Homo sapiens: one gene and its partner. The protein of the gene in region 2 interacts with the protein of the main gene of each other region in a pairwise test. Each region holds a gene or a part of one and is shown on either strand. Other genes may lie near its edges. The genes, in order: CLN8 and GPM6B.

Region 1 (3,461 bases), on a different chromosome or scaffold from region 2:
GGCACGGTGGCTCATGCCTGTAATTCCAGCACTTTGGGAGGCCAGTATGGGAGGACTGCCTGAGCCCAGGAGTTTGAGACCAACCTGAGCCAGACAGCAAGACCCCATTTCTACACAACAAATTTAAAAATTAGCTAGGCATGGTGACATGCGCCTGTGATCCTAGCTACTTTGGAGGCTGAGGCAAGAGGATCACTTATGCCTAAGAGTTTAAGGTTACAGTGAGCCACGATCACGCCACTGCACTCCACGCCTGGCCGATAGAGAGAACCTGTTTTAAATTAAAAAAAAAAAGTTTTTTATGTAAAGTTTTGGCAGAAACTTTTCAGATTGAGACTTGACATTTAATAACTTTCTGTAATAATGGAGGATTTTAACTTTGGTTTAATTTTTGGACTCTTTTGATGGGTTTGAGGTTGCAGGTATCAAACCCTGCAGGAATGGGCTGTGCACGGCTTCAGGCGGGCTGGAGTGCTAACTGAGGCTGCCAAGCGTGAAACAGCACAACGGTAAAAGCAAAATACATGCAGAGAGAAAAGAAATGAATTCACTCCATGGGCCTGCAGATGTGGAAAAGAAGTGTCACTAAGGCCAGGCGCCTGTGCTCTGGGGTTCCTGGCCAGGTTCCCAGAAGGAAGGGTGTGGTTTCTTTTTCCTCTTGGATGGCTGGCTGTGGGTCCTGGATACCTCGGAATCAATTCCAGACATTTGGGGTTGAGTCATCGGAAGAAAGGAAATAGAGACGTCTGAATTTTTCACATCACTATATTTTAAACATGATTAGGCAAGTATATTTTTGTTACTAAAATAGTAAATACATTTTACTAAGAGTGAAGTACATTTTGTTACTAAAAAGGAGAAAAGTTATTCAAAATGATAAATATGGAATTAATAAGCTCTCGCATTAGAAGAAAATAGGAAGAAAGTTAGCAAAGAAAGGGGTGAACTGAAAGCGTCAACATGCATTCGTGAAAGTCTGGGTGCAGTTTATTCTGATTTACTCTGAGGTGAGCTGAAATCAGGACCGCAGGGTGGGCGATGCATCTGTGACAAGGCTGGACAGACTCATGGGTGCCTGCCCCCCCTCCTCCTGCAGCCCCTCCCCCAGGGCAGGCCTCCTGTCCTGGGAGCCAGGCTGCTGGCATGTCACACAAAATCACGTGTGCTGGGTTCTGCACAGAGCAAAGCCAGGTATGCAGCACAAGGCAGGCTGTCTGGCTCTCGAAGACCCCGATAGAGAGCCCCCGCAGGCTGGGCATATTCTGACCCCAGAGGTGGCAGCTTCCTGCAGTTCCCTGATCTGTCATTCCTGTCCTGTGACTTCCAGGGAGGGGCAGCTCCTGGGAGACCCACCAGCTGACACCTGGGACTCTGCCCTTCCTTCCTAGGCTGCTGTGTGAGTGGGGCTGGGGTCTGGAGACCCTGAGGGCTGCCCCAACACCAACACCCCTGCCTGTGCTCCTCTTGTGACATGGGTGCGTCCTGTCTTTACTGCCGAAGCCACAGCAGGGGTTTAGGGAGCCCGTGCATCTGACCAGTACCTGTCTAACCCCACGCCGCCTGTGCCACCGTAATCTGACCGGTACCTGTCTAACCCCACGCAGCCTGTGCCACCGTAATCTGACCGGTACCTGTCTAACCCCACGCCGCCTGTGTCACCGTAATCTGACCGGTACCTGTCTAACCCCACGCCGCCTGTGCCACCGTAATCTGACCGGTACCTGTCTAACCCCACGCCGCCTGTGCCACCGTAATCTGACCGGTACCTGTCTAACCCCACGCTGCCTGTGCCACCGTAATCTGACCGGTACCTGTCTAACCCCACGCCGCCTGTGCCACCGTAATCTGACCGGTACCTGTCTAACCCCACGCCGCCTGTGCCACCGTAATCTGACCGGTACCTGTCTAACCCCACGCCGCCTGTGCCACCGTAATCTGACCGGTACCTGTCTAACCCCACGCCGCCTGTGCCACCGTAATCTGACCGGTACCTGTCTAACCGCACGCCGCCTGTGTCACCGTAGTCTGACCGGTACCTGTCTAACCCCACGCCGCCTGTGTCACCGTAGGACAGAGCACAAAGGAGCACCCAGGATGCACACCTGACACACTTCGCGGCCGAGCCGCAAGCCTGAGGAGCGGGAGACCCTCGCGGTTCAGCGGCGTGAGGGCAGAGCGACGGAGCCCCTCCGCTTCTGTCTGCGTGAGCACATTCGCATAGAACAAGAGTTCTGACCTGGTCAAACACTTGACACGCACATAATGGAGGAAACTTTTGGCATGCTATCAAATGCTTTCTCACATGCACACAACATCTCCTCCCCAGCATGAAGGAAAGGCAGCTGACCCTGGCCGACCCCACCCCAGGCTGGCCCCCACCAGAGGCCCGAGCGTTTCCCCTTCTGGCCACACGTTTCCAGTGGCCACCGTTCTCTACTGAGGACATCACCTCCAGCCGCTGGTCTTGCCAGGCAGCCTGTGCGAGGGTGAAACTGGCTGCCCAGCCTCCCAGCCCTGCCCTTACCGTGGTAAATTCCCCCCTCAGCAGGTGTCCCCATATCAGCCCTTGGGTCTGTCCCCTGCAGGGCCCTGCCTGGCAGCCCTGGGTACTACTGGTTCATCCACTCCCTACTGCCAAGCAGCCATCCTGTGCCAGGGACATGGGGCTTAGAATCAATCAGAGAATAAAACAGATGCAACCCTGCCCGTGTGGAGCTCACAAAATTCGGACATGGGAAGAGAACCACATTCACCGGGTGCTGATGCTGCAGTGTGACCGTGTCCCCTCCAGAATTCACATGACATTGTAATTGTCATTGCGGTGGTATTAAGAGGTGGGGCCCCCTACTCTTGCAAATGGCTTAATGCCTCATAAAAAGGCAGCGGAGAACTAGCTGAGGCCTGTTGACCTTCCATCCCCTCCACCACGTGAGGATGCAGTGTTCCCAGCAGAAACTAATCAGCCCACACCTTTATCTTGGACTTCCAGCCTCCAGAACTGTGAGAAATGATGTCCGTTCTTTTTTTTTTTTTGAGATGGAGTCTCACTGTGTCACCCAGGCTGGAGTGCAATGGCGTGATCTCGGCTCACTGCAATCTCTGCCTCCCAGGTTCAAGCAATTCTTCTACCTTAGCCTCCCAAGTAGCTGGGACCACAGGCATGCACCACCACCCCCAGCTAGTTTTGTTTTTTTAGTAGAGATGGGGTTTCACCATGTTGGCCAGGCTGGTTTCAAACTCCTGACCTCAAATGATCCACCCGCCTCGGCCTCCCAAAGTGCTGGGATTACAGGCGTGAGTCACCGTGCCTGGCCTGAATGTCTGTTCTTTATAAACTACCCAGTCTTAGGTGTTTTGTCACAGCGGCCCATACTGCCTGAACCACGACTTTCTGCGCTAAATGCCGTGTTGAAGAGCCCAGCTCTGGCGCCGGAGGCTGCGCCCAAGGCAGGCACGGCTGT
Region 2 (3,820 bases):
TTGTAAAAAGGCCCCTCCAGAAGTGTAAGTCCAGGGGATTTGGAACACATCCATCCAGTTGCCGATCCCATCGGTGTGTCTTCTGGATCTATTCTTTTTTTTTTTTTTTTTTTTTAAATCCTGAATTAAGGGTCTTAGGCATGGCTGCCATGTTTTTCTCAGAAAACACGTTAACATTGAGCAGTCCATGGTTTTTCATTGTCATTGCCTAGCAGCCTATGCTTGCTTGCCTGAACATCTGGAGACTTACCCCATCCATATGAGGAGATGAGCACAGAGCATGGATGAATCTTCTGCAGAGATACCCTGAATTGCATGGCCTGGCTTGGGTAAAAGTCAGCATGGTGGGGGATCTAGAGGTCCATTTCTGGTCCACAGGGTCCCAGGGTGCTCCCTTCCTTTCAACCAAATATTTATTCAGCCAGCGTTTATTGGGCACCTGTGTGCTGAGTATGTAGAGACAAATTTTTTAAAAGGATAAAAATTTCCAGATCAAAAGTGATAGAACTACTTAGAATCCTCTTGCTTAGGGGTCTATGTGGAGGGCTCATAGCCCCCTTTACCAAGAGGAAATCAGATCATACCATGAAGTGCCTTGACCTTCTGTTTTTTTTCTGTCAGCCCCACTGGGTTTTCTTGCCTTTGGAGAATGTAGCAACATCTATTTCTGAGAGAGAATCTCCTGAACAGTAAAGCAAAAATCTAAATCTGTTTTTTGGGGGTTTTTTTTCTTTCTTTTTTTGAGACAGAGTCTCACCCTGTCACCCAGGCTGGAGTGCAGTGGCATGATCTCAGCTCACTGCAACCTCCACCTCCCAGGTTAAAGTGATTCTCCTGCCTCAGCCTCCAGAGTAGCTGGGACTATAGGCGTATGCCACCATGCCCGGCTAATTTTTTTTTTTTTTTTCCTGAGATGGAGTTTTACTCTTTTTTTTTTTTTTTTTGCCCAGGCTGGAATGCAGTGGCGCGATCTCAACTCACTGCAACCTCCATCTCCTGGGTTCAAGCAATTCTTCTGCCTCAGCCTCCTGGGTAGCTGGGACTACAAGTGTGCGCCACTATGCCCAGCTAATTTTTGTATTTTTAGTAGAGACAGGGTTTCACCATGTTGGCCAGGCTGGTATCAAACTCCTCACCTCAGGTGATCTGGCTGCCTCGGCCTCCCAGAGTGTTGGAATTACAGGCATGAGCCACCACACCTGGCCAATTTTTTAATTTTTATTTTTTATATATTTTTTTTATTTTTAGTACAGACAGAGTTTCACCATGTTGGCCAGGCTGGTTTTGAACTCCTGACCTCAAGTGATCCGCCCGCCTTGGCCTCCCAAAGTGCTGGGATTACAGGTGTGAGCCACCGCACCCAGCCCACAAAAATCTCAATCTAAGGAAGACTGAAAGTTAAGAAATTTTAAGAAGCCTGAGATAACATCAGTAGCTTAGGACCTGGACCGTTTCTTTAGGAGACACAGAAGCACAACTCAACTGCAAATGCACCTCAGAAAAACTCTCATTGGGTTAACTGTTGCCTCAGCAGAAGAGTAGAAAATTGCAATACATGCAGAGGTCACAGTAGGATGTATGGTGGTTTCCAAAGTGTGCCCTCTTGAGTGAAATTGCTAAGGTTCACATTCAGGCTTCTCTACCTCCTGGCTGAAAGATCTTGGGCAAGTGATCATTACCTTCTCCTTGCCCTTGGGTTGTTCCCTTGTAAAAATGGAATAATAATAGTACCTATTTCAGAGGGTGGTTGTGACAAATGTAATAAGTACCACATGCTGAGTGCAGTGCATAGTACATCATAAGCACTCCATAAATTTTTGCTGTCATCATCATTGACCACAAAAATAGTTTCATTGTGCAGTTCTGATCTTATCCCAGCATCTTTTCTGTACCTCCCTACCCTGGTTTTAAATGAGTTATGTATACCTTACCTTGAAGTCAAAAAGATTTTTTCTAAAACATTCTAGAAAAGCAGGTTTCTGCTTCCAAACTTGAAATACCTTACAAGTTTTCAGAGATTGTGGAGAGTGGAGTTGGGATTTTATAAAGGCTTTGTGAGGTTTTACTTGCCTCACACTGTGGCTTTAGTAGGTTCTTCTCCTCAGAGACCTGAGCTGCCAGATGGTGCATTATGACCTGATCTTCTGATGGAATCATTACCCACATCAATGGCACAATTTTTTTTTAATCCTTAAATATTTGTGGTGCCCCAGAGGATATAACCCCTTATTAGGTTTTATGGGATTCTCGGAGATAAACTGGCCATAGCGACCTTATGATCTCTTTGAGATTTCAAGATTGTAATTCAACTAACTTTTATGAGAAGCCTACTCTGTGCCAGGCAAATTGGTAGGTATTTTTCTTTGCAATCCCCTAAGAAGTGGGAAATATTGTATCATATTACCAGATAGAGACCTGAGTCCTCAGGGAGTGCCAGCTGTCACCATGTGTGTAATTAAGCAGTGGTTCGAGCCCAAGACCAGTAGCCCTTTCTGTATAGCACATGGGAGAAAATTGGAACAGGATTTAATCCAGAACATTCTAGACTCTGACGTTCTGAGTTTAAGATAAGGTGACAGACAATACTGCAGACGTCAATGGGAGGACAAGCATTTCATCCAAGAAACAGCAGACCATTAGGTTGTTTGCCAGGTTTTCTGGACTAGAGCTGGGTACCCTTACAGAGAGGGAGCCTGCGTTCACCTTTGCTAGTGCAGCTGGCAATAATTATAGTGCTCTGTTAGTGCTCTGTTGGTCTGAAAAGGAAACAGAAAGAAAAATATTATTGTGAGGAGCCAAATTTTCACTATAAATAGTATCTTCCCCAAATGAGCATTTTAAGAAGCAGGATATGGTGTGTGTTGGGGGAAAGATGTAGAAAATAAAGATCATTTTGGTGATTTACATAAACTTCAATTTAGAAACGGAGGACATTCTCAATGGATCATGCTGGTACTGAAGGGTTGCATTTCAATAGCATATTTTTTAAACTCCCCATTTCCTTTCTATGGTAAAGAATAAATAAAAATGCTGATATAGAATCTTTGCTGGAGATAGAGACACTGACTCTTTGCCACCTGAAATTGGCAGTGAACAGCAGAGCTGAAATGGAAATTGGCAGGTACCACTGGATGTACCCAGGCTCAAAGAACCACCAGTACCATCCCGTGCCAACCCTGGGGGACAGGGCTAGCCCCTTGAGCAGTCCAGGTAAATACAGCCTTGGGGTGAATTCTAATAGCAAGTCAACTGTTATCTTTAATATTATTTGTAATGGCTCTTGCAGCTTGGTGATATTTTATGTTTTGCTTGGTGCATTAATTTGTTCACACGGGCATGGGTGGAATTCGCCCTATAAACATTTTTTAATCATCTTTCTTTTTCTCTCTCCCTCTCCATTCCACCCCATCTTTCTCCACTTTCTTCTCCTTCTTCCCTCTTCCCTCTTTCACCTTCAATCACTTCGTCTTCTCAAAGGGAACAATGTACAGTGAGATATGCCTTTGGTTAACCATGAAATTTCCAATGCCTGAACCAATAATGGGGGAGGGGGGCCACCCACATCCCCCATGTGGCCAAGAACTGGGCCAGGGCCTTCAAGGAGCCTTGGCCCTGAGAGTACTGTGAGTGTCCCCAAATGTCTTCCCAGCCCTGCTGCTCTGCACCACCCTCTCACCTCAGTCATTGCCTTTGAGAAAGAGAAATCAAAGCTGTGAAAGTAGGATTGGATAACCATGTACCCGATTCCCATCAGGTAGGTTCAGTGGGTCCGGTTTCCATTTTCCTTGCTCGTGAGGAACATTGGCCATTCAGAACCGCT

The links.
Region 1: the proteins of GPM6B (region 2) and CLN8 interact in a two-hybrid assay, tested with the Homo sapiens proteins (one study listed by BioGRID).

What each region holds. Positions count from the first base shown.
Region 1 is NC_000008.11:1,783,857-1,787,317, reverse strand, and holds the end of CLN8 (protein CLN8), read right to left. Parts: 3' UTR 748-3,461; downstream 1-747. UniProt on the Homo sapiens protein: Could play a role in cell proliferation during neuronal differentiation and in protection against cell death.
Region 2 is NC_000023.11:13,807,040-13,810,859, reverse strand, and holds part of GPM6B (neuronal membrane glycoprotein M6-b), read left to right. Parts: intron 1-3,090; coding exon 3,091-3,210; intron 3,211-3,820. UniProt on the Homo sapiens protein: May be involved in neural development. Involved in regulation of osteoblast function and bone formation. Involved in matrix vesicle release by osteoblasts; this function seems to involve maintenance of the actin cytoskeleton.